Homo sapiens: one gene and its partners. The protein of the gene in region 1 interacts with the protein of each later gene in a biochemical or structural test. Each region holds a gene or a part of one and is shown in the gene's direction. Other genes may lie near its edges.

The links.
Region 2: the proteins of UBE2L3 (region 1) and ANKIB1 form a complex in vitro, tested with the Homo sapiens proteins (2 studies listed by BioGRID, with this or other methods).
Region 3: the proteins of UBE2L3 (region 1) and RNF14 form a complex in vitro, tested with the Homo sapiens proteins (2 studies listed by BioGRID, with this or other methods).
Region 4: the proteins of UBE2L3 (region 1) and RNF20 form a complex in vitro, tested with the Homo sapiens proteins (2 studies listed by BioGRID).
Region 5: the proteins of UBE2L3 (region 1) and HERC6 form a complex in vitro, tested with the Homo sapiens proteins (2 studies listed by BioGRID).
Region 6: the proteins of UBE2L3 (region 1) and TRIM13 form a complex in vitro, tested with the Homo sapiens proteins (one study listed by BioGRID).
Region 7: the proteins of UBE2L3 (region 1) and RNF168 form a complex in vitro, tested with the Homo sapiens proteins (one large-scale study listed by BioGRID).

What each region holds. Positions count from the first base shown.
Region 1 is NC_000022.11:21,573,710-21,578,025, forward strand, and holds part of UBE2L3 (ubiquitin-conjugating enzyme E2 L3), read left to right. Parts: intron 1-4,316. UniProt on the Homo sapiens protein: Ubiquitin-conjugating enzyme E2 that specifically acts with HECT-type and RBR family E3 ubiquitin-protein ligases.
Region 2 is NC_000007.14:92,395,406-92,399,176, forward strand, and holds part of ANKIB1 (ankyrin repeat and IBR domain-containing protein 1), read left to right. Parts: intron 1-959; coding exon 960-1,071; intron 1,072-2,317; coding exon 2,318-2,454; intron 2,455-2,806; coding exon 2,807-3,544; 3' UTR 3,545-3,771. UniProt on the Homo sapiens protein: Might act as an E3 ubiquitin-protein ligase, or as part of E3 complex, which accepts ubiquitin from specific E2 ubiquitin-conjugating enzymes and then transfers it to substrates.
Region 3 is NC_000005.10:141,975,342-141,979,657, forward strand, and holds part of RNF14 (E3 ubiquitin-protein ligase RNF14), read left to right. Parts: intron 1-2,961; coding exon 2,962-3,489; intron 3,490-4,316. UniProt on the Homo sapiens protein: E3 ubiquitin-protein ligase that plays a key role in the RNF14-RNF25 translation quality control pathway, a pathway that takes place when a ribosome has stalled during translation, and which promotes ubiquitination and degradation of translation factors on stalled ribosomes.
Region 4 is NC_000009.12:101,554,113-101,558,428, forward strand, and holds part of RNF20 (E3 ubiquitin-protein ligase BRE1A), read left to right. Parts: intron 1-581; coding exon 582-731; intron 732-3,271; coding exon 3,272-3,484; intron 3,485-4,316. UniProt on the Homo sapiens protein: Component of the RNF20/40 E3 ubiquitin-protein ligase complex that mediates monoubiquitination of 'Lys-120' of histone H2B (H2BK120ub1).
Region 5 is NC_000004.12:88,381,547-88,385,862, forward strand, and holds part of HERC6 (probable E3 ubiquitin-protein ligase HERC6), read left to right. Parts: intron 1-1,638; coding exon of another isoform or gene 1,639-1,674; coding exon 1,675-1,834; intron 1,835-3,952; coding exon 3,953-4,029; intron 4,030-4,316. UniProt on the Homo sapiens protein: E3 ubiquitin-protein ligase which accepts ubiquitin from an E2 ubiquitin-conjugating enzyme in the form of a thioester and then directly transfers the ubiquitin to targeted substrates.
Region 6 is NC_000013.11:50,006,728-50,011,043, forward strand, and holds part of TRIM13 (E3 ubiquitin-protein ligase TRIM13), read left to right. Parts: intron 1-4,316. UniProt on the Homo sapiens protein: Endoplasmic reticulum (ER) membrane anchored E3 ligase involved in the retrotranslocation and turnover of membrane and secretory proteins from the ER through a set of processes named ER-associated degradation (ERAD).
Region 7 is NC_000003.12:196,479,432-196,483,747, reverse strand, and holds part of RNF168 (E3 ubiquitin-protein ligase RNF168), read left to right. Parts: intron 1-4,316. UniProt on the Homo sapiens protein: E3 ubiquitin-protein ligase required for accumulation of repair proteins to sites of DNA damage. Acts with UBE2N/UBC13 to amplify the RNF8-dependent histone ubiquitination.

The sequences.
Region 1 (4,316 bases):
TATGGGAAATGCTTTGAGGAGCCCCAGAGACCATCTGCCTACTCCCCAGTGCTGCTTGCGTCTGACCTTGTGCCGTCCCGCTTTGGGTTTTAGTTAGGCCAGCCCCTGAGATGCTTTCCAGAAGTGTTGAGGCATTGGCTTGATTTTACCCCAGATTGGCATGTCCAGTGCACCTGGTTCCTCCAGAGCTAGGAGACCTCCCTCTGCCAGGCCAGCCTTGGAGGGTGAGCTACCTCTCTATAGAGGGGTCACTGAGGGCAGTGCTGATGGATTTAAGGACAGGTGGCAGAGATGCCATAGCCTTTAGGTTGAGGGGCCAGATCTACATATCTCCTGGATGCTACAGCTATCCAGGAGAAGTGGCATGCCACTCACTCAGAAAGGGCTTTGCATGTATCTCCTGTGGCCAGCTTCATCATGCCTGTTCTTGGGGGACATAAATAAGCCTAACCTCCCCAAGCCCCCCACCCCTATAAGAAAGGGAGGAAGGGGCTTTTGCTCAGAGCAAAGCTGTTTAGAGGAAGACTACAGCATAGCAGTTAAAAGCTCAGGTTCTGGAGTTTCAATCCTGGGCCTGCCATGTCTTAGCTGAGTGACCCTGGGCAAGTTACTTTACCTCTCTGTGCCTTAGTTACTTCGTCCGTGTGTGAAGGTTAAATGAGTTAATATATACCAACTGCTTAGAAGAGTGCCTGGCATATAGTAAGTGTGAGCTACTTGTAGATATTATTGGGAATAACCAAGACATGTTCCAGGGCAGGGAGGTGACCAGCCTGACAGGAGGGGAGGATTTGGAGGAGTGATAGGAGATGGTATTGCAAAGGTGTTTTCGGGACAGGTTGGGGCCAGTCTGCCTGGACATACCCTCATCACTGAGAGCCCATTCTCTTACCTGTGGTACTCTCTTATTCTGTAGGTTGGAGAAAGAGTTACTGAGACAGCTGTGTGAATGTTTGTTTAAAAATGTTGGCTGGGGGCCAGGCGCGGTGGCTCATGCCTGTAATCCTAGCACCTTGGGAGGCCGAGGTGGGCGGATCATGAGGTCAGGAGATTGAGACAATCCTGGCCAACATGGTGAAAACCCATCTCTACCAAAAATACAAAAATTAACCAGGCCTGGTGGTGCGTGCCTGTAATCCCAGCTACTAGGGAGGGGGAGGCAGAAGAATTGCTTGAACCTGAGAGGCAGAGGTTGCAGCGAGCTGAGATCGTGCCACTGCACTCCAGCCTGGGTGACAGAGTGAGACTCTGTCTCAAAAAATGTTGGCTTGGCGCAGTAGCTCACACCTGTAATCCCAGCACTTTGGGAGGCTAAGGCAGGTGGATCACTTGAGGTCAGGAGTTCGAGACCAGCCTGGTCAACATGGTGAAACCCCGTCTCTACTAGAATCACAAAAAAATTAGCTGGGTGTGGTGGCATGTGCCTGTAATCCCAGCTACTCGGGAGGCTGAGGCAGGAGAATTGCTTGAACCCAGGAGGCAGAGGTTGCAGTGAGCCAAGATCATGCCACTGCACTCTGGCCTGGGCAACAGAGTAAGACTCCATCTCAAAAAAAAAAAAAAAAAAAGAAAAGGAAAAAGAAAAATGTTTACTTGGCTGGGCGTGGTGGCTCATATCCGAATCCCAGCACTTTGAGAGGTCAAGGCGGGTGGATCACTTGAGGAGACCAGCATGGGAAACATGACGAAACCCCATCTCTACTAAAAAAAAAAAAAAAAAAATACAAAAATCAGCCGAGTGTGGTGGTGCATGCCTGTAATCCCAGCTACTCTGGAGGCTGAGGCAGGAGAATCGCTTGAATCCGGGAGGCGGAGGTTGCAGTGAGCTGAGATGGTGCCACTGCGCTCCAGCCTGGGTGATAGAGCGAGACTCTCGAAAGAAAAAAGAGAAAAGTTTACTTTTCCCAACAAAGTTGAATAGCTTTTTTTTTTTTTTTTTTTTTTTTTTTTGGAGACGGAGTCTCACTCTGTCACCCAGGCTGGAGTGCAGTGGCACCATCTCAGCTCACTGCAACCTCTGCCTCCCATGTTCAAGCCATTCCTCCTGCCTCAGCCTCCCGAGTAGCTGGAACTACAGATATGCGCCACCATACCCGGCTGATTTTTGTATTTTTAGTAGAGACGGGGTTTCTCCATTTCCCAGGCTGGTCTCGAACTCCTGCCCTCAGGCGATCCACCCACCTTAGCCTCCCAAAGGATTACAGGCGTGAGCCACTGTGCCCAGCTTAAAATTGAATAGCTCTTGAACTCAAAATTTGTCTTTCTAATATCTCAGAAATTTACCTTGCATATTGTAAACATCCAGTGTAGTGTGACAGTCACTGTGTCCAAAGATGAGCATAGGTGCTATGGAAGGCTCCCACAGGTGCTGAACTGGGGCAGGGGTGGAGGTTTGAAAGCAACTTTTTTTTTTTTTTTTTTTTGAGGCGGAGTCTCGCTCTTTCACCCAGGCTGGAGTACAATGGTGTGATCTTGGTTCACTGCAACCTCCGCCTCCCGGGTTCAAGCAATTCTTCTGCCTCAGCCTCCTGAGTAGCTGGGATTACAGGCGCACGCCACCACGCCTGGCTAATTTTTGCATTTTTGTTTTTTTTTGTTTTTTTTTTGAGATGGAATCTTGCTCTGGCGCCCATGCTGGAGTGCAGTGGTGCGATCTCGGCTCACTGCAAGCTCCACCTCCCAGGTTCACGCCATTCTTCTGCCTCAGCCTCCCGAGTAGCCAGGACTACAAGTGCCCGCCACCATGCCCAGCTAATTTTTTTGTATTTTTAGTAGAGACGGGGTTTCACCATGTTAGTCAGGATGGTCTCGATCTCCTGACCTTATGATCCTCCTGCCTCGGTCTCCCAAAGTGCTGGGATTACAGGCGTGAGCCACCATGCCCGGCCCCCAATTTTTGTATTTTTAGTAGAGCTGGGGTTTCACCATGTTGGTTAGGCTGGTCTCAAACTCCTGACCTTGTGATCCGCCCACCTCGGCCTCCCAAAATTCTAGGATTACAGATGTGAGCCACTGCGCCTGGCCGAAAGCAACTCTTGATTGAGAAGTTGAGGTCTCAGATGTAATATTCTTGCTTCTTGTCTTCTCTTTCCTTTTTTTTTTTTTTTTTTTTGAGACGCAGTCTCGCTCTGTCGCCCAAGCTGGAGTGCAGTGGCACGATCTTGGCTCACTGCAACCTTCACCTCTGGGTTCAAGCAATTCTCCCTGCCTCAGCCTCCTGAGTAGCTGGAATTACAGGCGTGTGCCACCATGCCTGGCTAATTTTTTTTTTTTTTTTGAGATGGAGTCTCGCTGTGTTGCCCAGGCTGGAGTGCAGTGGTACAGTCTTGGCTCACTGAAAGCTCCGCCTCCTGGGTTCACGCCATTCTCCTGCTTCACCCTCTCGAGTAGCTGGGACTACAGGCGCTCGCCACTACACCCAGCTAATCTTTTGTATTTTTAGTAGAAACGGGGTTTCACCATGTTAGCCAGGATGGTCTCGATCTCCTGACTTCATGATCCACCCACCTTGGCCTCCCGAAGTGCTGGTATTACAGGCGTGAGCCACCGTGCCTGGCCTGATTTTTGCATTTTTTAGTAGAGACGGGGTTTCATGGTGTTGGCCAGGCTGGTCGTGAACTCCTAACCTCAGGTGATCCGCCTGCCTCAGCCTCCCAAATAGCTGGGATTACAGGCGTGAGCTACCGCACCCAGCCCTTGTCTTCTCTTTCAACCTTGAAGCAGAAAGTTAAGAAAGTTGCTTCTGGTGGCTGTGTAGTTTCTCCTTCTGACCCTTGCTGCACACATACTCTAGAATTCCAGAGCTGTGTGAGGGATCTTGGAAAGCAGACACCAGTGGCCTCTGTTTACAGATGAGGAGGCTGAAGTCAGTGGTGGAGCCAGGCCCAACATCAAGGTCCCCTGCTCTCTGGGCCTTGCTCCTGCTTTTTAGATGGTTGCTTTTGGTCTTGAGGAAGGGACAAGATGGAGAAGAAGAGGGTTCATTTCAGATTCGGTGGCTGTTTGGGTTTTGTTTGTTTTGGTTTTTAACACTTCCAGGGCTGTGTTGATTATAGTTTTCTGTATTTCACTTTCTTGTCAGATTTTGTCCCTACTTTCCTAGCATAGGTAGGCAGAGCGGGGAACATTCTCTTTTGACAGCCCTTATCCCAGCAGGCACATCTGCAACCAAAGCAGGTGCTAATGTCAAAGGGCTCATGGGCTAATGTCAGGGCTCATGTGATGCTCCATCTTTCTGAGAGGAGACCACCTGACTCACGGTGAGGAAGAGGGTGTAACTCAGAGGTTGAATAGCCTCTGAACCCGTCTGAGATGGC
Region 2 (3,771 bases), on another chromosome or scaffold:
TTTGATTTGTGAATATGATATGTAGTAGTCCCAAAGAATAGAAAATCCAACAATCTGGCAAGTACTTAACAGTGTGTGTTATTTTTTACTGTTGTTCCTTTTTTTCTTTTTCTGTTACATATATCCCAGTCACTTTTTTTTTTTTTTTTTTTTTTGAGATGGAGTCTTGCTGTTGTTGCCCAGGCTGCAGTGGCACAATCTCGGATCACTGCAACCTCCACCTCCTGGGTTCAAGTGATTCTCCTGCCTCAGCCTCTCGAGTAGCTGGGATTACAGGTGCCACCACCACGCCCGGCTAATTTTTTGTATTTTTAGTAGAGATGGGGTTTCACCATGTTGGCCAGGCTGGTCTCAAATTCCTGACCTCAGGTGATCTGCCTGCTTCGGCCTCCCAAAGTACTGGGATTACAGGCGTGAGCCACAGCACCCACCCCTGGTCACGTTTTTAAAGCCACTTTCATATCCAGTTTCAATGGCTCACACCTGTAATCCCAGCTACTTAGGAGGCCGAGCAGTAGGGATTGCTTGAGGCCAGAAGTTCAAGACCAGCCTAAGCAACATAGCAAGACTCTGACTCTAAAAATAAAAAAATAAAAAATAAAAAACCTCCCTTCAAGGAAAGCCTTACTTAAATGAGTAATATGGTTGTAGTATTAATTAGATAACAAGATCCTTGAAATCATCAGGCATATAAAATAGGGCTGTTCTAATGTAGCACTGGGGCTTGCAAGTATTCCTAATTTATCTAGGCAATTGTAATGACTGTTGAAAACTTTCTTTTTCCATTTTACCTTTTGTGTTTCCTTGGCATGGCAAAACCTGATGTTTCAGCCAAGTGATTTTATAAGATGTGTATAAAATCACAAACTTTTTCCCCTGGAAAAAAGTGTGTACTTTGTTTTATTTGCATTTTAAAAATTGCATGCTCTCTTGTATTTTATAACCTTTGGTTTATGCAGGAATATGCTGAATTTCAGTATCGGAGGAGGCACAGACAACGTCGTCGAGGAGATGTTCACAGTCTACTCAGTAATCCTCCAGACCCTGATGAGCCAAGTGAAAGCACTTTAGGTAAGTCCTTGCATTGAGTATGGTTTAATCTCATAGCTCCCCTGAATTTATCCTTCAAACTGGCTGATGTAAATTTTTGTGAACGAGTTTGTCATTTAGATATACAATAAATATGCAGATGTTTCTGTTGTGACAGGACACAGAAAATCAGAGGAGTTAGGAGCATGGTCTGTGGAGTTAGGCAAACTTGGATTCATGACCCCATCTCTGCTGCATATTAGCTGTGTAACCTAGTCAGGTCACAACCTCTCTAAGGTTGTTTCCATATTCTAAAGACACAATAATAATAGTGCCACCTTATAGGCTCATTGTGAGTATTAAATTAGATAATGCATCTAAAACACTTAAGCACCTAGTGAAGCACTCAGTTAATTGTAGTATTGATTGATACTGTTTTGTGTTCATGGAATATTTGTCTCCTAGCCTTAGTTGTCCTGTAGACATTATTTAAAAGAGAGAGAATTTCTGGCATTAGAGATAAATTATTTTAATTATTCAACTTTTAAATGTTAAATTATTAAGTGAAAATCTTCTGACTATAATGTCAGGATCAATGGGACTAAAGATTTGCTCTTCAGACTATTGTAATTCCCAAATTATTTAATTTTAAGAAATCTAAAAATGAAAAACGTTTATTAGTTATTGCTTAACAAAAAAAGAGAAATGGATAGTAGCACTTGCATTTATGAATAGAACTATATAGACTGCAAGCAAAAGTGTAAAAAAGTCAGCCAGGCACGGTGGCTCATGCCTGTCATCCCAGCACTTTGGGAGGCCAAGGTGTGCGGATCACAATGTCAGGAGATGGAGACCATCCTGACCAACATGGTGAAACCCTATCTCTACTGAAAATGCAAAAATTAGCCAGGCATGGTGGTGCACATCTGTAGTCCCAACCACTCGAGAGGCTGAGGCAGGAGAATCGCTTGAACCCAGGAGGCAGAGGTTGCAGTGAGCCAAGATTGCGCCACTGCACTCCAGCTAGGTCGACAAAGCAAGACTCCATCTCAAAAAAAAAAAAAAGTAAAAAGTTACGGATTTGAAGTGATAGTATCATATATATATTATTCTTCATGGTAAGACAAATATGGATGAGAAATCCCAGAAAGATTAAGTGAACATGTCAACACAGGTTTTCCCCAGCACTGAAAGAGAAATTGCCCATCTAAACAACCAGATGTATGAAAAAAATAAATAAGTCTTATTTGTCACTAAATTGTCTTTGGTACCAATTGCTTTGAAACAGATATTCCAGAAGGCGGCAGCAGCAGCCGCAGGCCTGGCACATCCGTGGTAAGTTCTGCATCTATGAGTGTGCTGCACAGCTCTTCCCTGCGTGACTACACCCCTGCCAGTCGCTCTGAAAACCAGGACTCTCTTCAGGTAGCCTTTCTGAACAGCCTCATTGCCTGTGCTTTTACTCTTTCTCTGCTGAGTGTGGTTTCCTGTTGTTACTTTCATCGCTTTCCTATTTCTTCCTTCCATTCTAAAATCTTTGTTTTAAAGATGTGCTGCAGGAAAAGATATTCCTATATTTTAGATTTATTTTAAGGTATGTTTTTTTTTTCCTTTAGCATGGGCATGGAGAAAAATACAAGATTTTAGTAGATAAAATAATTTTTCTGTATAAATAAAATTAATAATCTGTTGGTAAAGGAAGAATGGTAAACCTGATTGAGTTAAATCAGTTTTTTTCAGTCAAATTTTAAAGTGGTTTTGCTTTCTGTTGCTTCAGGCTCTGAGTTCCTTGGATGAAGACGATCCCAATATACTTCTTGCAATACAGTTATCACTGCAAGAGTCTGGGCTGGCCCTCGATGAAGAAACTAGAGACTTCCTCAGTAATGAAGCATCCTTAGGTGCGATAGGCACTTCTTTACCTTCCAGGCTGGACTCTGTCCCCAGAAATACAGATAGCCCTCGGGCTGCATTGAGCAGCTCTGAGCTTTTGGAACTTGGTGACAGCCTCATGAGACTAGGAGCAGAGAATGACCCATTTTCAACTGACACCCTGAGCTCACACCCTCTCAGTGAGGCAAGAAGTGATTTCTGTCCCTCATCTAGTGATCCTGACTCAGCTGGCCAGGACCCCAACATCAATGACAATCTTCTCGGCAACATCATGGCTTGGTTTCATGACATGAACCCTCAGAGTATTGCCCTGATTCCTCCAGCAACTACAGAAATCAGTGCAGATTCCCAGCTCCCCTGTATCAAAGATGGGTCAGAAGGTGTGAAGGATGTGGAACTGGTGCTGCCAGAAGATTCAATGTTTGAAGATGCCAGTGTCAGTGAAGGTAGAGGAACCCAGATAGAAGAAAATCCTTTGGAAGAAAATATTCTGGCGGGGGAAGCAGCATCTCAAGCTGGTGACAGTGGTAACGAGGCAGCCAACAGAGGAGATGGTTCAGATGTTTCAAGTCAAACACCTCAAACCTCAAGTGACTGGCTTGAACAAGTACATTTAGTGTGAACTGCACACATCTGGGCTCTAAATGAATTACAGGTACAGATGGTATGCTAGGTGGAGTATGCTTGATAGAGACTTTGATTCACTTAATTCCAACTCAGTGATAAACCACTGACATTAGGGTTGAATACAGAGAAGTTCCCTTGAATGGTAGCTTCATTTTTTATTTTAACCTTACAGGGAATTTCCTTTGTACTTAATTGAATAGCTTTTCCCCTTTTTGCTGACAA
Region 3 (4,316 bases), on another chromosome or scaffold:
TAATTAGGACTAAAAATTGAGCTAATGTAGTTATAATAAGCAAATTTTCTGAGTGAATACAATAACTGATTTTCTTTGTAAAAATCTGTATTAATAACAAATAACAGTCAACTGGTATCACGTAGACATAAATGCATACAAGTAGAAATGTGTATAGTTCCTGTAGATATCTCAGTAAGGCTTGAGGCCTTATGTTAAGCACCTCATTTCCTCTGGGTTATATATACTTTTCTAGTAACAACCTCAACTCTTGATTGAGACATAAATATGGCTTGAAGCTAAATATAAATAATATAAAGCATTCTGGGAGAGATAATGAATCAGCAGCTGCTTTTCTAGAAGTCATAATGAAGATCAATAGACTAATGTGTATTAAGACAAAAGCTCAGCCTGTGCAACATGGCGAAACCCAATTTCTACAAAAAATACAAAAATTAGCCAAGTGTGGTGGTGCGTCCCTGTAATCCCAGATACTTGGGAGGCTGAGGTGGGAGGATCACTTGAGCCTGGGTGGCAGAGATTGCAGTGAGCCAAGACTGAGCCACTGCACTCCAGCCTGGGTGACAGACAGAGACCCTGTCTCAAAAAAAAAAAAAAAAGAAAAAGACAAAAGATGTCAGAGTTGCTGACCTCAAGGAATAGCTCATTAGTTTTTCTCTTTGGATCATACAGTTTTCATTTCCCCATCCACCAATCTAATCTTTTAAGTGAGAGTACTTTCACAAACTAGAGCTTATGGTTTAAAAGCAAAATTAAACCTTAAAAAGGATAACACAGGTAGAATAAAAAGGAGTATTACTTTACATTCTAATGTCTGTGCCAGAGGCAACAGATGCAAGACAGTTGATTTGTCCAGGAATATCAAGACTGTTTGGCATTTAGGCCACTGATAGTTGGCTTAATTATTTAGATCTTCATAGTCCTATTTCACCAGAGAGCTTTTCATACTTTACATCCACGCATGTGCGTGCATGCACGTGCATGCACACACACGCACAAAACAGGGACAGATTAACTGGATGCGTGGTTGTGGTTTCAGATTCCAGCCAACCAGCATCTACTTAATGCTGGATTTGGGGGCGGAGGTGTGTGCTGGGGAAGAGAGTTGTTTTATGTGTTACAGCTAAAATTACAGTAGAATTCTTAATCAAATAAATGTTTATGCATATAATTAACATTTTAATTGGTCTCTTATATTCCTTCTTGGTTCAGTTCTTGTTTGTTGCTGTACCCTGATTCCTTGGCATTATGACTCTCACCTGTTAATGGTGAAATTGACACATAGAGCTGTCATTCCCTGAATTGGGGCGGGTAGACAGAGGGAAGTGGTTTTAGTTTTCTAAAACCTTATTCCTTATTCCTCCCCCAATATACTTACACAGTCTCTTTCCCGTCCCCCTTCCATTTACATGCATTCCAGCTGCCTTTCTCTCTCTTTTTTTTTTTTTTTTTTTTTTTTTTTTTTGAGATGGAGTCTTGCTCTGTCACCCAGGCTGGAGCACAGGGGCACAATCTCAGCTCACTACAACCTCTGCCTAGTGGGTTCAAGTGGTTGTCCTGCCTCAGCCTCCCAAGTAGCTGGGAATACAGGCGCCCGCCACCACACCTGGCTAATTTTTTGTATTTTTTAGTAGAGACAGGGTTTCACCATGTTGGCCAGGCTGATCACCAACCCCTGACCTCAGGTGATCCACCCGCCTTGGCCTCCCAGAGTTCTGGGATTACAGGCATGAGCCACCACGCCCAGCCCCAGCTGCCTCTCTTGAGAAGGGACTGGGGTAGAAAAGAGGTTGGAGAATGGCTTCTTCATAGGACTTGGTAGCTCACACAGCACTCATAGCTTCCCTTTTAGTATTTATCACATTTTACAGATGTTAGCAGATTTCTCAAAAGCATGGTTGATTTATAAGGATATTTATGCAAATGTGAAAAATCATTAGTTGTTCAATCTTAACTCATCAATAAGTATTTAAGGTAGTACCTATGCAGGGTTTAGTCAGTGGCACTACACAGAGTGTAAGAAACAGAAAATCTGGTCCCTTTTCATTTGTCATTTAAATTTACAAAATTTGTTTGCCATCTGGAAGGCATATTTTTGGATGTTTACCTAAAAAAGAAAAGCTGCTTATAATTCCTGTGCTCTAGTTAAAAATATTTTATATTTCTAATGGAAAATTCTCCAACATTTGCCTTTCAAATTGAACAGACCACTTTTAAAGAGGAAAATTCCAAATAATTTAATTTTGGTTGCTTAGCTTAGGAAGTGTAAGCTTTCTCTATGGCTGCCAAACCTTGCTGAGGGCTTGTGATTAGGACCAGGGTCAATATCAGGCAGCTTCCCTCCATTAACCAGGATCTGATATAAGCCCAGATTGCTTACTTAAAAGCAGCTTGTAAATCTGAACAAGGACTCTGAGGTTGAATTCTGTTAGTGATTGTTTCAGATGAGTTGACTTTTTGATAAAACTGAAAGAATTAATTTTAAAACTTGGATAGTATTTTTAAACTATTCTTTTTCTAACCATTATTCTAGGATACGAACAGGGCTAGGACTCCTAATGGAAGAAAAATAGTTTATTTTTAGAACTAGATCTCTTTGTCCTACATGAGGTATATGGCAGTACTAAAAGATTAAAGAACAGAAAAAAGTCTTCCATTTCAGTGGCTAAAATGTACAGCTATTTCTCTACCTTACGGAGTCTTGCTATTTCTCTTCTTCTCGTGGTACTTCTTGCTTCTGACTTTATGTTCTACTCTGGCTCATGTTGCCGAATAGTTTAAGAAGTGCTCCAGTAAGAATGTTTGTACTGTTTTGTATGTAGCACAGTGTATCACAGCAGTAAAAAATAGTGTTAGAATAAGGGCCTAACTTGCAAGTGGAAAAGATTTCTAGGGAAACCAGGAGTTGGCAGCAGCATCATCTTTCCAAACTCACCAACATCTTCATGTGTTTTCTCCTAGCTATCTGCTCTATGCAAGCACTTAGACAACCTATGGGAAGAACACCGTGGCAGCGTGGTCCTGTTTGCCTGGATGCAATTTCTTAAGGAAGAGACCCTAGCATACTTGAATATTGTCTCTCCTTTTGAGCTCAAGATTGGTTCTCAGAAAAAAGTGCAGAGAAGGACAGCTCAAGCTTCTCCCAACACAGAGCTAGATTTTGGAGGAGCTGCTGGATCTGATGTAGACCAAGAGGAAATTGTGGATGAGAGAGCAGTGCAGGATGTGGAATCACTGTCAAATCTGATCCAGGAAATCTTGGACTTTGATCAAGCTCAGCAGATAAAATGCTTTAATAGTAAATTGTTCCTGTGCAGTATCTGTTTCTGTGAGAAGCTGGGTAGTGAATGCATGTACTTCTTGGAGTGCAGGCATGTGTACTGCAAAGCCTGTCTGAAGGACTACTTTGAAATCCAGATCAGAGATGGCCAGGTTCAATGCCTCAACTGCCCAGAACCAAAGTGCCCTTCGGTGGCCACTCCTGGTCAGGTAACTGTTTACCCTGCTGATGGTTGCCTCCTAATTCTCTTCCATAAATGGAGATATCATCTCAGGAACTTCCTTGATAGGGCTCATGGGGCAGTCCGAGGCCTTGGAGCCAGCCCACAAGTTGTTTTGCTGTATCCATTAAAAATGCTATGGTCTTAGTCTACTGCTTAAGCAAATGGAATGCTTCCTTTGGCCTTGCAGTGGGCAAGGATGAGTGTTAAAGTAGTTATTAAGTAATTGTGATAATTTACTTTGTATATCTGCTAGTAGGATCCCATAAACCTTGGGGAATCACTAGCTTATTCTTGTGTGAGGTTGGCATCTGAAGGGGACGTCTCTTAGAATGATTAACCAACTTTTTTATAGACTTCAGCAGAAGTACAGCCTACTTAGGTGGTGGTGGTGTTGTTGTTGTTGTTGTTGTTGTTGTTTTGTTTGAGATGGAGTCTTGCTGTGTCACCCAGGATGGAGTGCAGGGGCATGATCTCAGCTCACGGCAACCTCTGCCTCCAAGGTTCAAGTGATTTCCTGCCTCAGCCTCCCAAGTAGCTGGGATTACAGGCACCCGCCACCATGCCCGGCTAATTTTTTTTGTATTTTTAGTAGAGACGGGGTTTCACCACGTTGGCCAGGCTGGTCTTGAACTCCTGACCTCAAGTGATCCTCCCGCTTTGGCCTCCCAAAGTGTTGGGATTACAGGCGTGAGCCACTGCTCCTGGCCAGTTTTTTGTTTTCTTATTAAAGCATAATTTTACTTAAAATAAACTACACATTTAAATCATACAAGGCTAGCATGGTAGCTTACACCTATAATCCCAGCACTTTGG
Region 4 (4,316 bases), on another chromosome or scaffold:
AGTCTGCTATTACCTGTCCTTCTGGTTAAAATCTTCATTTGTGGGATTTTCCTTTATACTTGCCAACGATATAATTTCTTTCTTTATCTTTAAAATAAGTGTTTAAGTGCAACATTTTCTGCCTTTTCAAAGACCATCTGAAGTAGAGATTTTAAAACTCTCCATAGGATGGTAAAATATATCTGAATTACTGGGGTTATGAGTAGGCTTTCCAAAGTATGTATTCCTTGTTTTTCCTATGTAATTCATTGCTACAGGGATAATCTTTTTCATTACTTTTGGGAGGAATGTCTTATGCTCTTAAAATTTTGAGGCCTAAAAAAAAGGATGGGAACCACTATTCTAAAGAAAGTTACCTGTGCACTTCTCAAAAGTGTTGCTTATAGAAGCATGTCATAGTAGAATGGAGTGATGTTAAAACAGATGGTGTTATGTAATGTTTTAGTATATTATGTACCTTGTTCTATAATTCTGTAAAGACTCTTTTGGTATTATGAACCTTCTATCTTTGCACAGTATTAATTGATTTTTGAAAATGTGTTATAACTTTTTATTTTTGTGCAATTCCTTTCCTCTTATAGTTGGAAGATCTAAGGCAAAGACTCAAGGATCTGGAAGATAAAGAGAAGAAAGAGAACAAGAAAATGGCTGATGAGGATGCCTTGAGGAAGATCCGGGCAGTGGAGGAGCAGATAGAATACCTACAGAAGAAGCTAGCCATGGCCAAGCAGGTGGACTCACTTTCTTTATTTAATTGACTTTTTGAGTAAATGTTACTTGACAATAAGTTATTGCCAGTGAAATTTGCTTTTTTATTTTGGTCTTTTTTTGATTGTTAATGTGTATTTTTCCTTTTTGTGTGTGTGTTTTAATTCTTACCTTCAAGTCTTTTATCTTTCTGTTATTTTGTTTTGTGTATTTGTGAGGCAAGAAATTTACTTTTATTTAAATGGACATTTATTGAAGATCTAGTCTTTCTCTGCTGTTGTTCAGACAGTTATTGAAGATCTAGTCTTTCTTTGCTGACCTGGAATTAAGGGTTATAGTGAATATAAAATGAAAAATAAGACATAAGATTTTATATACATTATGATTACAAATATATGAAACTAAGAAAACTATGCTTATAAATATATATCATTATATATTTCTATGTAGTACATATACTACACAGAAAAACTATGCTTATAAATATGTGATTTATATATAATAAGGATATAATCTATTAACCAATATAATAACATTGATTAAGCAGTATGTTAACTATGGCTATTTTGGGGTCATAGAACTATAGAGATTGTTCTCCTCCTTATAATGAATATGTATGTATTTTTAAATGCCAGGGAATTTTTATTAAAATTCAATAATAAAGATACTGAAAATGCTTGAAAAAACCATATATGTATTCTCTGTTAGTACACCTTCATTGTTTCTAAGAAATAGCAAAATAACAGTGAGATGGAGTAGGTTTAATGGTAAGTTGATCATGAAGTGCCTTGAAAAGAAGAACTTCATTAGATCCTATACACATTCCTTTTGTTAACAAGTGTAATTTTGGGCTGGGCGCGGTGGCTCATGCCTGTAATCCCAGCACTTTGGGAGGCCGAGGTGGATGGATCACCTGAAGTCGGGAGTTCAAGACCAGCCTGACCAACATGGAGAAACCCCATCACTATTAAAAAAAAAAAAAAACAAAATTAGCTGGGCTTGGTGGCGCATGCCTGTAATCCCAGCTACTTGGGAGGCTGAGGCAGGAGAATTGCTGGAACCCAGGAGTGGAGGTTGCAGTGAGCCGAGATGGCGCCATTGCACTCCAGCCTGGGCAACAAGAGCAAAACTCCATCTCAAAAAAAAAAAAAGTGTAATTTTGACTTTTCTTAAATCTGGTAAATGCCACTTTTTTTTTTCTTCCCTCTCTCTTAAGGTAATTATCAGGAAATTATACTATTATAGGTTCTAGAACAAGTAAAAAGAAAGACACTATGTTCTTGTATACGATGACTATCTTAAAAATGTTCAGTCTTTCTAAGTTTATGTATTAATATAATGTGATCTCATAAAAGTGCTTTTTTTAAGTTTTGCTTTTGTTTATTTTGGTACTAGAAGAACTGGTTTTAAAGTACATGTGGAGAAGTAAACAAGAGTAACAAGAGAAATTGAAAAAGAACAGCACTGGGGTCTCTTCCATATATTAAAACATAAAGTTTCTGTAGATGAAATAGCTTGGGACTACTAGACAGGCTATTAGAACTGAATAGAAACTTGAGAAGTAGTTGAAAGTACACATGATACTTATTATGTGCTAAATACATAGTTTTAAATCAGTGGGGAAAAGAAAAACTGTGACATGTGATGGGACAAAATTAAAAAAAATAATGTTAGAGAAAAGTTAGATACATACTTGAATACACTAGGATGATTTCCAAATGGATCATAGATATGATATTTTAAAAAATGCATCCATCAAAAAGCTAGAAGAAAACCATTAAATTCCTTTATAATTTGGAGTGGAGACCTTTCTATGAATAAAAGGCTAGAAAACATGAACAAAAAATTGATAATTTTGAGTTATTTTTTAAAATGATGCAAAACTTCTACACTGCAAAAAACACTGTTAGCAAAGCCAAAAGATTAAATGACAAAAAGTAAAAAATATTTTTAACTTTTATTACAAAGAAGGCTTATCTGATACAAAAAAAACTCTCCAAAATAGGGAAAAAAACTCAAGAATCCAGTGGAAGAATAGGCAAAAGAAATGAGTTGGTTATGGAAAGAATACAAGTGGTCTTAACCATATGAAAAGATGCTCAGTCTCACTTAAAATGAGATAGATATAAAGTAAAGCTATTATTAGATACCAGTCTTCACCTATCAGATTGTTACAAGGCTTTAGATGTTTGCAACTGCTGGAAATCCTGTAGATCCAGTATTTTAATTGTGGAAAAGCATGAGAAAATGTGAGAGGTTATGATGGAAGTACTCTTAACCAATTGCTGCTTGATCCGTTTGTCTAGATTAAGGTAAATACAATTATTGTCTAATTTAACTGACGTTGAGTACAGATCAACTAATAAGTATCAGACCAACAATTGGTGCCAGTGACTTCAGATAATAGAGCTTCTGTATGCCTAGTGACAAAACACAACTTCTTAAAACTCTGTCACTAAATTAATTTATATCTAAATGAACAGTGGGAAAATTTAGTTTCCTGTGCTCTTCCATTGAAGTTGGAAGATTCTTCTAAAATCAAATCTCTTCCTTCATCCTTTAGGAAGAAGAAGCACTCCTCTCTGAAATGGATGTCACAGGCCAGGCCTTTGAAGACATGCAGGAGCAAAATATCCGTTTGATGCAGCAATTGCGGGAGAAGGATGATGCAAATTTCAAGCTCATGTCAGAGCGTATCAAGTCCAATCAGATCCATAAGTTGCTTAAAGAAGAGAAGGAGGAGCTGGCAGACCAGGTGTTGACTCTGAAGACTCAGGTAATTAGGATGAGTAGAGCTTTCTATTCTGTTGAAATAGGGTGCTTTCTACATGATGATATAAGTAAAAGAATGATTATTGTGGCACATTTTTGTGATTGGAAAAAAATTTGAAAACTAAATGTTCATCATTAGGGTATTGGTAAATAAATTATACATCTCTACTGTTATTCCTACAAAAGAGTACAGTGTACTTGTCAAATATGGATCTGCTAATATGGAAACATGTCTGAAATAAAATCAAGTGACGTGTTTTGTTATCCTTTTTGCGTTAAAGTATATGTTTACTTGTGTTCCTGTGCTGTATATTTTAAAAATTTCTGGAAGGCTGCATGAGAAACTGTTAGAATTGTTACTTCTGGATATTGGGATGAGTTGTGGGTGAGGTTAGGAGGTATGTGTGATTTTACTTTTTTTTTTTTTTTTTTAAATTTCCATAGGTTTTGGGGAACATGTGGTGTTTGGTTACATGAATAAGTTCTTTAGTGGTGATACCAAGATTTTGGTGCACCCATAACCCAAGCAGTGTACATTGTACCCAGTGTGTAGTCTATTGTACCCAGTGTGTAGTCTGTTGTCCCTTGCCTCCCTCCGCCAAGTCACCAAAGTTTATTGTATCATTCTTATGCCTTTGCGTCCTCACAGCTTAGCTCCTACTTATGAGTGAGGACATACAATGTTTGGTTTTCCATTCCTGAGTTACTTCACTTAGAATATTGGTCTCCAATTCCAATTCCATCCGGATTGCTGTGAATGCCATTATTTTGTTCCTTTTTATGGCTGAGTAGTATTCCATGGCGTGACTTTTCCTCTGGGTAGATACCCGGAAGTG
Region 5 (4,316 bases), on another chromosome or scaffold:
TTCTCTTCTTTTTTTTTTTTTTTTTTTTTTGAGATGGGGTTTTGCCCTGTCACCAGGCTGTAGTGCAATGGCACTATCTCGGCTCACTGCAACCTCCGCCTCCCCAGTTCAAACGGTTCTTCTGCCTCAGCCTCCCAAGTAGCAGGGATTACAGGCACTCACCACCATGCCCAGCTAATTTTTATATTTTTAGTAGAGACGGGGTTTCACTATGTTGGTCAGGCTGGTCTCAAACTCCTGACCTCGTGATCCACCCGCCTCGGCCTCCCAAAGTGCTGGGATTACAGTTATGAGCCACTGCGCCCGGCTGACCCTTTTCTTGGTGCCAGAGATGGGAGCTTCTCACAAAAGGATATTTATGACCTACTTTTAGGTAGATAAGAAGAGAGCAGAGACCTCTTCCTGCATCTGTTGATTCTCAATTGCCTTCAGCTCAAATTCTTAAAGTAGCATGTTTTCAGGTCTTATCACCCTCATTTGGAAATGAAGGGCAACATGATACTTAACCCCAAATTGTTCTCTAGAAAAATGGTACCAATTTCTATCTTTGTGAGTGCATGAATCTTTGGGAAATTTTAACCTTGCATAAATTGACAGTAAATAGTTGAAAAAGATAAGATTACAAAGATAAAAGGAAAAACAAAATCTTAAATGTTGCAAAAACTTTACTGGTATGATGTTCTCAACTCCAAACCTCTAATAATTCAGAGACAGACACCTTGGGAAAGCAGTTTAGGTTGGCTTGTAGGGAAATGTGATCCGGTTTTCATTTGTGGGCATATTTAGGGCCTCCATAGGGGCATATTTTTCACTTTTCATTGTAAGAGGATCCAGCATCTGCCTCTCACACTCATGAGGTAGGCTCCCTTCCAATTTCCTTCTGAGCAAGGGATTCACTGCTTTCAGTGTTTAGGGTGGGAAGACAGAATAGCAAAATGGAGGAGATCCCAACTTTTTTCTGGGTCTCTTTATTTTGCTAGGTTTTGCTAGAGAAACATTTGGTCATGTGTCATAGTCCCTAGAAGTTACCCCCTCCGTGATGCCTACTCCTTTAAATAACAGCCATTAAAAGATAGACTTGGGTAATTGAATGTTTTTAAGAGTCAATTTGAACATTCAGCAGTTCATGAATTGAGCAGCACCAGACCTCAAGCAGTTGGGCTCCACTAAGGGAGGTGCAAGGAGATGCCAGGGGGAACCTTTGATAACGTGTTCCAGGAAGCAAGACAAAGAAAATACTTGATTGGTTAAAGTGGAAAGTCCCTTGTTTGAAGTAGTCAGCAGTTTCTGGTTGGTAAAGTCTCTAGTTAGATGTTAGTTGGTGGTTTCTGATTGGTTAACCTTAAGTTTCATTTTCCTAGGCTATGATCAATCACTCTGAGTTGGGTTTTGGTTTGCTTAGGTAGGAACCCAAGGTGCTGGAGCCATCTCAACCTGATAGTCTCCCTGTTGATTATTTTAACAGAGCTGTATCCTATAAAGACAGGGTAACATACATTGAATTTACTTCCTTCAGACATTTAGAATGGACTTAAGGTCTTGATTCAAAAGACCATTGGAGGAGACAAGAAATCTGGATGATCCTTCTTTTTGAAGAAAAGTGCTGTCTTAAACTTGTGTTAAATTAATAATCTGCAGTGGTGGTTGGGGGGTGTTTTGTTTTGTTTCCCAAAGAACCAATTCAGGCATTGGAAACCCTAATTGTTGATCTCGTGAGCTGCGGGAAGGAGCACTCCCTGGCTGTGTGCCACAAAGGAAGGGTCTTCGCATGGGGAGCTGGTTCTGAAGGGCAGCTGGGGATTGGAGAATTCAAGGAAATAAGTTTCACACCTAAGTAAGTGTTTCAACCCACTCCTTCATTTATTCAATATATATAGTACCATGTGCCAGGCACTGTGCAAGATGCCAGGATACAAAGACGACTATGACAGGCCAGCTGCAGTGGTTCATGTCTGTAATCCCAACACTTTGGAAGGCTAAGGTGGGCAGATCACTTGAGGTCAGGAATTTGAGACCAGCCTGGTCAACATGGCGAAAGCCCCTCTCTACAAAAAAGACACAAGAAAATTAGCCGGGCATGGTGTCAGGCACCCGCAATCCCAACTACTCAGGAGGCTGAAGCGGGAGAATCGCTTGAACCTGGGAGGCAGAGGTTGCAGTGGTGCTGGGACAGCGCCACTGCACTCCAGCCTGGGCAACAGAGGGAGACTCAGTCTCAAAAAAAAAAAAAAAAAAAAAAAAAAAAAAGACTATGACAAACACAGTTCCTAACCTGAAGGACTACAGTGTAGTGAGGGAAGAAGGGAGGAAAAAACCTACAACACCAATTATTATTTAATTAGAGCAGAGTGAAATGAGATGTGACCCTTTGATCTTAATCTTATCTCTTGGAATATAACTGTGGGGGCCAACTTAGACCTCCAGAGTGGGTATAAAGACCACTGTAAAGTAGAAACATTTGAGCTGCAAAAGATACAGATATAAATCTTACCTGAACTTCCTTTATCATACTAAAACAGAGCCTCCTGAAAATGCAGTTCCCAGTAACTTCCTTGAGTGAGAGTTTCCTGGGAATTCAGTTGTCATTAAGATAGACCACCCATTACTATTACCATCAAAAAGCCCAATAGAACCTTCTATACTTTCCCACTGAAGTCCCAAAACCCCGCCTTTTATTAAGGTGACATATATAAAACTTTACTTTGGGATATTCTGCAATAGCGAGCATGCTTGTAAATAACCTTTGTCTTTTCTCTTGTTAATCTATTGTCAGTTAATTTGCAAGCCCCCAAATATTGGACCAAAGGTGGAAGAGAAGTTTTTTTCTCAACACAACCTTTTGGCTTGTCATAAACCACTGGGCCCTAACATTTTACTTAGTAAAGTGGAGGGAAATATCACATTTCCTCACAAACAACTTCCCAGGACAGATATGACAAGTAGTTGGCTCTGGATTATGTGTTTATGAATTACATACTTAGGGGATTTTCAAACGCATGCTTTTTAATATTAGGAAATCACCTCTTGTTACCTCTTCTGGTCATTAAATTCTAGAAGAGATCAATTTGACTTGGGGAAATGAGCATTGAACTTGGAATGAAAAGACCAGAATTTGAGTCTGGTTCTACAGCATCATAACTATTTGACCTCTTTGAGTTCCATTAGATTCACCTTATGAAATTGCTCATAGTGGCCAGGTGCAGTGGCTCACACCTGTAATCCCAGCACTTTGGCAGGCCAAGGTGGGCGGATCACCTGAGATCAGGATTTCGAGACCAGCCTGGCCAACATGGTGAAACCTCGTCTATACTAAAAATACAAAAAAAAATAGCCGGACGTTGTGGTGCATGCCTGTAATCCCAGCTACTTGGGAGGCTGAGGCAGTAGAATTACTTGAACCCGGGAGGAGGAGGTTATAGTGAGCCAAGATCGCACCACTGCCCTCCAGCCTGGGTGACAGAGCAAGACTCCGTCTGTGAAAAAAAAAAAGGAAATTGCTGATAGTTATCTGGTTTTGATCCACAAAAATGGCAATTTTGTATGATTTAACCTAATGATTTCTTCATTAAATTAGGGCTTAAATTAGATGATGAAGTTGTTGGTGTTCTATAAATTCTAAGGCCCTATACTATATATGCAGAAAAAATTTATTTCTCTTTTAGGCTATTAAGTGTAGAATAAAATTAGTATATTAGATATTGCATTAAAGTCCAATAGCAATGGCTTTTGCATTTATATACTGTTTTGGATTCTGTCCTATAACTTGGTACATGTTAATGTCATGTTAAAAACAGTTTGAGGGCTTTGAAATAAAGGTACTATAGAAATACAAGAAAATAAAATAGTTTTCCTGGACCAGATGTATTATTTGAGATACTTTTAAATATCTGTAGTCCACCGGACAACTCGCTCTAAATAAGGATTAATCAATTTTGTATTATTTGTATTATAGGAAAATAATGACTCTGAATGATATAAAAATAATACAAGTTTCCTGTGGACACTACCACTCCCTGGCATTATCAAAAGGTAAGAAACACTTTTTGGATCTGAGTGTGAGTAGGAAGTAATTTTTTGAATAGGAATTATAGCTGCTGATTTTTAATGCACTGGGGTTCATTTAGAAGTTTTTCATTCCCCAGGTTTCATAAGATATATTGTTTTCCTATTTTTTTCTCAAATTTCTTGGTCCTAATTATACTCTAAACAGTGCCTAATTCATAGTGCCATAAGGGGCTGTCTCTGGTTATTTGACCTAACTGGCCAACTCTCTCAGAGCTTAGTAGTGGCTTTATTTCCAGCCCTTTGCTCTTTAT
Region 6 (4,316 bases), on another chromosome or scaffold:
GAGGTTATATGATTTGTCATATCACAAAGGATTTTTCAGAAAAATCAGCTAATTACACCTTTTTTTGCAATATGACACTAAATTTGAGACAGAATAATCTTTGCTTTAGTTCTCCCTATGTTATGTATTATAAATACATGTATCTTACAATCTACTATAAAACCATAAACTGGCTGGGCGTGGTGGCTCACACCTGTAATCCCAGCACTCTGGGAGGCTGAGGTGGGCGGATCACCCGAGGTCAGGAGGTTGAGACCAGCCTGGGCAACATGGTGAAACCCTGTCTCCAGCAAAAAATACAAAAGTTAGCTGGGCATGGTGGTGGGCGCCTGTAGTTCCCAGCTACTCAGGAGGCTGAGGCAGAGGAACCGCTTGAACCCGGGAGGCAGAGGTTGCAGTGAGCCGAGATTGTGCCACTGCACTCCAGCCTGGGTGACGAAGTGAGACTCTGTCTCAAAAAAAAAAAAACCCAAAAAAATAGGGCCCAGCGTGGTGGCTCACGCCTATAATCCCAGCACTTTGGGAGGCTGAGGCAGGTGGATCATGAGGTCAGGAGTTCAAGACCAGCCTGTCCAAGATGGTGAAACCCCGTGTCTATTAAAAATACAACAAAATTAGCCGGGCGTGGTGGCCGGTGCCTGTAATCCCAGCTACTCGGGAGGCTGAGGCAGGAGAATTGCTTGAACCTGGGCAGCAGAGATTGCAGTGAGCCGAGATTGCACCACTGCACCCCAGCCTGGGCAACAGTGAGACTCTGTCTCAAAAAAAAAAAAAAAACGCCAGGCACGGTGGCTCACCCCTGTAATCCCAGCAGTTTGGGAGGCGGGTGGATTGCCTGGGGTCAGGAGTTTGAGACCAGCTTGGCCAACATGGTGAAACCCCGTTTCTACTAAAAATACAAAAATTAGCTGGGCGTGGTGGCAGGTGCCTGTAAATCCCAGCTACTCTGGAGGCTGAGGCAGGAGAATTGCTTGAACCCGGGAGGCGGAGGTTGCAGTGAGCCAAGATCACACCATTGCACTCCAGCCTGGGTGACAAGAGTGAGACTTAGTCTCAAAAAAAAAAAAAAAAGCCATAAACTAATTAACCCTGCAAGCTCAGCTTGTCCTTTAAATACTGTTTACCTTCTAGATATAGTCCAGTCATGTATGGCTGTTGAAATTACTGTTAAAAAAGTATTCGCTTTTTTTTTTTTGAGACAGAGTATTGCTGTGTTGCCCAGGCTGGAGTGCAGTGGCGCTGTCTCGGCTAACTGCAAGCTCTGCCTCCTGGGGTCACACCATTCTCCTGCCTCAGCCTCCCAAGTAGCTGGAACTACAGGTGCCTGCCACCACGCCCAGCTAATTTTTTTGTATTTTTAGTAGAGACGGGGTTTTACTGTGTTAGCCAGGATGGTCTTGATCTCCTGACCTCGTGATCCGCCTGCCTCGGCCTCCCAAAGTGCTGGGATTACAGGCATGAGCCACCCGTGCCCGGCCAAGTATTCACTTTTTATCATAGATGGCCTACCGATTAAGTCATATGTTATTGTTGATAATGTGATATTGTTGATAATGTGATATGTGCATATATCCCTGAGTAAACTGAATGTAGAAATATGTAGTACTCTTTGGTTTTACAACTATAGAGATGAATGTATATTTAAAATAAACTTGTGGCCTGATGCAGTGGCTCACACCTGTGATCTCAGTGCTTTGCGAGGCTGAGGCAGGAGGATTGCTTGAGGCCAGCTAGTAAGACCTGGTCTCTACAAAAAAAAAAGTAGCCAGGCGTGGTGGTGCATGCCTGTAGTCTTAGCTACTTAGGAATCTGAGGCAGGAGGATTGCTTGAGCCCAGAAGTTTGAGGCTGCAGTAAGCTATAATTAGGCCACTGTAGTCCAGCCTGGACAACAGAGCAAGACCCTGTCTCTCAAAATAAGAATTAAAAATAATAAACCTGCATTGAGAAATGGTATTGCCTGTATTAGGGATCTCAAATATTTTGGTCTTAGGACACTTTTACACTCTTAAAAATTGAGAATCCTGGCCTGTAATCTCAGTGTTTTGGCAGTCTGAGGTGGGAGGATCACTTGAGCCCAGCAATTTGAGACTAGCCTAGGCAATATGGTGAGACCTCATCTCTACAAAAAAAAACTACAAAGAAAAAAAAAATTAGCTGAGTGTGATGGTGCGTGCCTGTAGTCCCAGCTACTTGGAGGTTGAGGCAGGAGGATGGCTTGAGTCCAAGAGGCAGAAGTTGCAGGGGACTGAGATTGCACTGCTGTACTCCAGCCTGGGTGAAAAAGCTGTCTCAAAAAAAAAAAAAAAAAAAAAAAGAGAATCCCAAGAACTTTATGTTTGTACTGTCGATATTTACTCTATTAGAAATTAAAACAATTTTTAAAAAATACTCACGTAAAATAACAATGATAAACCCATTACAAGTTAACAAATAATTTAGGAAAATAACTATTTTCCAAAACAAAATTAAGAGAAGCATGGCATTGCAATAGAGGCCTGTAATGAATGGCTATTTAATAGAAGACAGCTGGAGTCTTTTGTCTGCTTCTGTATTTAACCTGTTGGAATATATTATTTTGGTTGAAATAAACGAAGAAGGCTGGGTGTGGTGGCTCATGCCTGTAATTCCAGCACTTTGGGAGGTGGAGGTGGGACGATTGCCTGAGGGCTGGATTTCTAGACCTGCCTGGGCAACATAGTGAGACCCTGTCTATAAAAAAATCCACGGCCAGGCGCGGTGGCTCACGCCTGTAATCCCAGCACTTTGGGAGGCTGAGGCGGATGGATCACCTGAGGTCAGGAGTTCAAGACCAGCCTGGCCAACGTGGTGAAACCCCGTTTCTACTAAAAATACAAAAATTACCTGCGTGTGGTGGTATGTGCCTGTAGGCCCAGCTACTTGGGAGGCTGAGGCAGGAGAATCACTTGAACTCGGGAGGTGGAGGTTGCAGTGAGCCAAGATAGCACCACTGCACTCCAGCCTGGGTGACAGAGTCAGACTCCGTCTCAAAAAAAAAAAAAAAAAAAAAACAACAACAACAAAAAACACTAAAACTAAAAATTAGCAAGGCATGGTGGTGCACACCTGCAGTCTGTAGTTACTTGGGAGGATCTCACTTGAGCCCAGTATTTCAAGGCTGCAGTGAGCTATGATCATGCCAGTGCACTCCAGCTTGGGTGACAGAGTGAGACACCCCATCTCTTAAGAAAAAAAGAAAAGAAAAGGAAATACACAAAAATCTAGGCTTACACAGATATGTAGTTGGTAAAGGAAGGAATATTATTTAAATAGCCTTTTCAGGTAATTTAATCTTTTTTTTTTTTTTTTTTTTTTTCCTGAGGCAAGGTCTCTCTCTGTTGCCCAGGCTGGAGTGCAGTGGTGCTATCTCGGCTCACTGCAGCCTCTGCCTCCTGGGCTCAAGGGATTCTCATACCTCAGCCTCCCGAGTAGTTGGGACTACAGGCGCATGCCACCATGGCTGGCTAATTTTTTTGGTATTTTTTTTGTAGAGGTGGAGTTTTGCTATGTTGCCCGTACTGGTCGTGAACTCCTGAGGTCAAGCGGTCCACTCTCTGCAGCCTTCCAGAGTGTTAGGATTACAGGCGTGAGCCACTGCTCCCAGCCTGAATCTTCTTGTGATACTATACAAAAACTCAGCAAGTGCTAGTTTCTTTGTTGGAGTATGGAATCTGAAATTGTTTATGAACCTGTTGGTCTTTCGTGAACTTCAAATGGATCTTTTACCCATGCCTGATTTGTAACATGCATTAGTGACTTGAAATAGTATTCACTGTGTTTTGCAGATCTCCAAATATTGACACATTTCATTATACAGTACTCCTTTCCCCTCAGAAAATCCTCACATTCATTAATATCACTGCCCATCTCATCATAAAAGTCTTTAATTAATGGGAAGCTGTCAGGCTCATAAATATCAAATGTTTTCCAAAATTCTAATTTTTACATAAAACCCAGCCTTTTCATTAGCAAGAGATACTGTCAATTGTTTTCTTTGAAGTAGCAAGCTCATTTTTTTTCCCCAGAAAATGTCAGGTAGCTAAGTCTGAATAGCCATAGTTTATCATTTGTTCTTTCAGAAGGTAAAAATGGTGTTCCATGAAAAAAAGCAGCTGGTTTAACTTGCCGCTCTTCACTTAAGTGCTTTTTCTCCAGACAACATCTGCCGGTATGCAGAAGTGCTTTGTGCGTACTGCCTATTTTGTCACGCAATATATTAAAAAACTGTACACAGGCTCAAGACTTAATAAAATGAATAATTTTTACTGCTGCATCAAGAACATTCTTAAGTGAAAC
Region 7 (4,316 bases), on another chromosome or scaffold:
TATTTGTTGACCTCCTACTGTATGCCAGTGTTTTCTGTTCATATAGACTACTACTGATTCTCAAAGTTTGGTCCGTGAACTTTGTATGAAAATAGTCTGAGGTTGAGGTAAATTGAAAAGGAGAGAGCTACTCACACAGCTTCCTCTTGGCTTCTCACTCAGCCACTTACTGTGGCAGATTCATACTTTTATCTTACTGCCTCAGGATTTCCAGTTTTCTCAAAGTGAACCATTGGATTCCTCTTTCTCTTGGTTTAAATTCAGATGAAAAAAATGGGTCCCAGATAGGCTTATCTTCACTGAAAGAGTTTACAATTTGTCATTTCTTCTCTATTACACAAAATGCATGAGTCAGGTAGACAAAGGTGGCGTGATTGAGTTTCACCACAACACCCCTCCAGGGTCAGGTGCCAGGTGGAGTTGGTGGCTTTACGCAAACATCAGCTTTCCCATGGTAACTCACAGTTGGAAAAGTTTAAAAACCACAGTCTAGACTTGAAAAATACATAAGGACTTCTGGTTCAACTGAGGAAATATGTGCAGGTAACTCATCTCCTTCCAAGATTTGTTGAAATTTTGTATTTGAGGTGGGAGGAAGCTTAGGAGAAGAGAATGTTAAATGAGGGAGGTACTATTAAAAAAAAAAAAAGATGTGACAATATCAGTGTCGCCAGTACTCATAATGTGCAAAGTAAAAATGAGAAAACCGCTAAAATGCAGAAGTATTTCATATTGATACAATATGCTGTTTAAGGCTATAACTCATGAATCTTTATATATCTAAATATATACTTTGAAATACATAAAAATAAAAAATTACCAGAGATACAAGAAAAACTAAGGATTTAAAAGCAAAAATTGAGAAACTGATGGATTAAAGTTGTAACAATATTAAAAACAGATAAAGTCTGTTTTCTAGAATATATGAAAACTCTTATAACTCAACAACAGAAGACAAATAATTAAAAACTGGACAAAGGGACTTGAGTAGACATTTTTCCCATGATGTACAAGTGGCCAATAAGTACACGAAAATATGTTTAACATCATTAGTTATTAGGGAAATGCATATCAAAACCACAGTGATATAGCATTTCATACCCATTAGGATGGCTATAATCCACAAAAAGGGAAAATAATAAGTGTTGACAAAGATGTGGAGAAATTGGAATCCTTGCGCATTGCTTGGTAGGAATGTAAAGTGGTATCGTGGCTGCAGAAAACAGTTGGTGATTCCTTGAAAAGTTAAACGGAATTAGCATATGACCCAGCAATTCCACTCCTAGGTATGTACCCAAAAGAATTGAAAGCAGGTATTCAAACAAATACTTGTACATGAATATTTGTGTCAACATTATTCAAATAACCGAAAGGTAGAAACAACCCAAATGTCCATTAACAAATGAATGGGTAAACAAAATGTGGCATTCCATTTTATGTGAATTACACCTCAATTCAAAAGTTTAAAAATGAATAACAGGATTATATAGTTTTAAAATTAAGAAAAATTTCTAAACAACTTGTTGATTAAAGAGTAAATTTTGTTGGAAATACAGAACTGAAAATATGCATGAAAACTGGTATGTGGCTAAAGTGGTATTTAGAAGGCTTTACGTGCCGTATCAGAAAAGAAGAAAGGGCAGCCAGGTGTTGTGGCACGTACCTGTAATCCCAGCTACATGGGAGGCTGAGGCAGGAGGATTGCTTAAGCCCAGGGAGTTTGAGTTTGGGACCAGCTTGGACAGCATAGCAAGATCCTGTCTCTAAAAAAAAAAAAAAAAAAAAGCCAGGGACAGTGGCTCATGCCTATAATCCCAGCACTTTGGGAGGCTGAGGTCTGAGGTGGTAGGATTGCTTGAGGCCAGGAGGAGTTCAAGACCAGCCTGGGCAACATAGTAAGACCCTGTCTCTACACAAAATAAAAAAATTAGCCAAATGCAGTGGCACATGCCTGTAACCCCAGCCACTTGGGAGGCTGAGGTGGGAGAATTGCTTGAGCCCAAGAGGTCGAAGCTGCAGTGAGCTATGATCATATCTCAAAAAAAAAAAAAAAAAAAAAAAAAAACGCAGCTGAAAACGTATTTAAAAAGACAATTCCAGGAATACATTGCTGGTTTAATGGTAGAAAATGAATCACTGTAAGTTATTCAATTAGCTGTATAAATATGAAATACACGAGATGATAATTCTTAATGAAGTGGTAACAGAAAGAAACTTTCTTAACCTGTTGAAGGATATCTACCAAAATCTTACATCACATATCATACTTCATAGTGGAACATCGAAATTATTTCCTTTTTTTTTTTTTCCAGACAGTCTTTCTTGCCCTGTCACCCAGGCTAGAGCGCAGTGGTGCGATCATGGCCCACTGCAACCTCAAACTCCTGGGTACAAGTGATCCTCCCGCCTGGGCCTCCCAAGGTGCCTGGATTACAGGAGTGAGCCGCCACGCCCCGCCATTCCCCTTGTAAGGTCAGGAATACGCAAGGGTGGCCTGCTACTCTCCACCTGCATTCAGACTCATGCTGGAGAGTTTAGTCTGCACAGTAACACAATAAAAGGAGATAAAACATATCAGCCTGGAAAGGAAGGAAAAAGCAGCTATCATTCTTCAGAGGCGGTATAATTATCTATGTAGAAAACCCAAAAAGTCAGAGGTACATTTTTAGAATGAAGAGTTTAGCAAGGTTGCCAGATATAAAATCTGTACAAAAAGTCAATTGTAAAATGTAACTTTAAAAATACTCTGTCGATAGTAGTATCAGAAAATAAAAGTACTTAAAAATAAATGTGTTAAAATCTGAGGCAAGCATGGTGGCTCATGCCTATAATCCCAGCACTTCGGGAGACTGAGGCGAGAGGATTGCTTGAGCCCAGGAGTTCAAGACGAGCCCGAGCTGCACAGGGAGACCCTATCTCTTAAAAAAAAATTAAAAAATTAACCAGGCATGATGATGCACACCTGTAGTCCCAGCTGCTCAGGTGGCTGAGGCAGGAGGATCACTTGAGCCTGGGAGGTTACGGCTGCAGTGAGCTGTGATTTTACCACTGCACTCCAGCCTGGGCAACAGACAAGACCATGTCTCAGAAAAATAAAAATCTGTACGACCCGTGGAGAAAATTGTATTATATTAAATATACAATATTCATGGGTTAGAAGATGCCTAATACTACAAAATGGTCAGATCTCCTCAGACTGATCTATAGAGTCAGTGCAATTCGAATCAGAATTCCAACTTTTCAAATTTTTCTTTTGAGACGGAGTCTCGCTCAGAATCACACAATACTAATCAATAAAGTGTTTAGAGATGCAAAAGTGTGGCAAATCTGTTTTAAAAAGTAAGATATAAGAAACTCAGGATAGTATGAGGTGGGAGATGACGAGGCCCCATAGGAGACTTTCAAACCAATGATTTCTTTTCCCTTCAACCAAGTAATAAGCATATGGGCTTTCATGGTAATACAGATTTTTAAACTTTTTAGAAGAATAACACATTTTTTTGTTTTGTTTTTAATGGACCACAGAGCAGCAAACATATATTTTAAAGTGCACCAGTCTTCGGCACCATAAGACAGGGTAAAAAAGAAAAAGTAAAAAATTTAAAAAGACGGTGCACCAATCCTAAGTATACTTTCTGGTGAATTTTTGTGTGTGTATAAACCACCCACCAGATGAAGACGGAATATTTACAAAGGTTTGCTTGTGCCCTTTCCCTTTCCAGTCAGTGTCCCCCTCCCCGTGACCGTGCTGTACTGTGATTCTTACATGTATTGTATGACTGTTCTCTCATAAACTTTGTTTTCATGAGGCAGACTTGGAAAGATCTTAAGACATTAGTGAAAAAAGCAAATCACAAGCCGGGCGCAGTAGCTTATGCGTGTAATCCTAGCACTTTGGGAGGGTGAGGCAGGCAGATCACTTGAGGTCAGGAGTTCAAAACCAGCCTGGCCAACATGGTGAAACCCCGTTTCTACTAAAAATACAAAAAAATTAGCCAGGCGTGGTGGCGGACGCCTGTAATCCCGCTACTGGGGAGGCTGAGCCAGGAGAATTGCTTGAACCTGGGAGGCGGAGGTTGCAGTGAGCCGAGGTCACACCACTGCACTCCAGCCTGGGCGATAGTCCGTCTCAAAAAAAAAAGCGTGAGGCTGGGTGTGTTGGCTCATACCTGCAATCCCAGCACTTTGGGAGGCCAAGGCAGGTGGATCACTTGAGCCTAGGAGTTTGAGACCAGCCTGGGCAACATGCGGAAACCCTGTCTCTACAAAAAATAACAAAAATTAGCCGGGCGTGGTGTGCCTGTGGTCTCAGATGT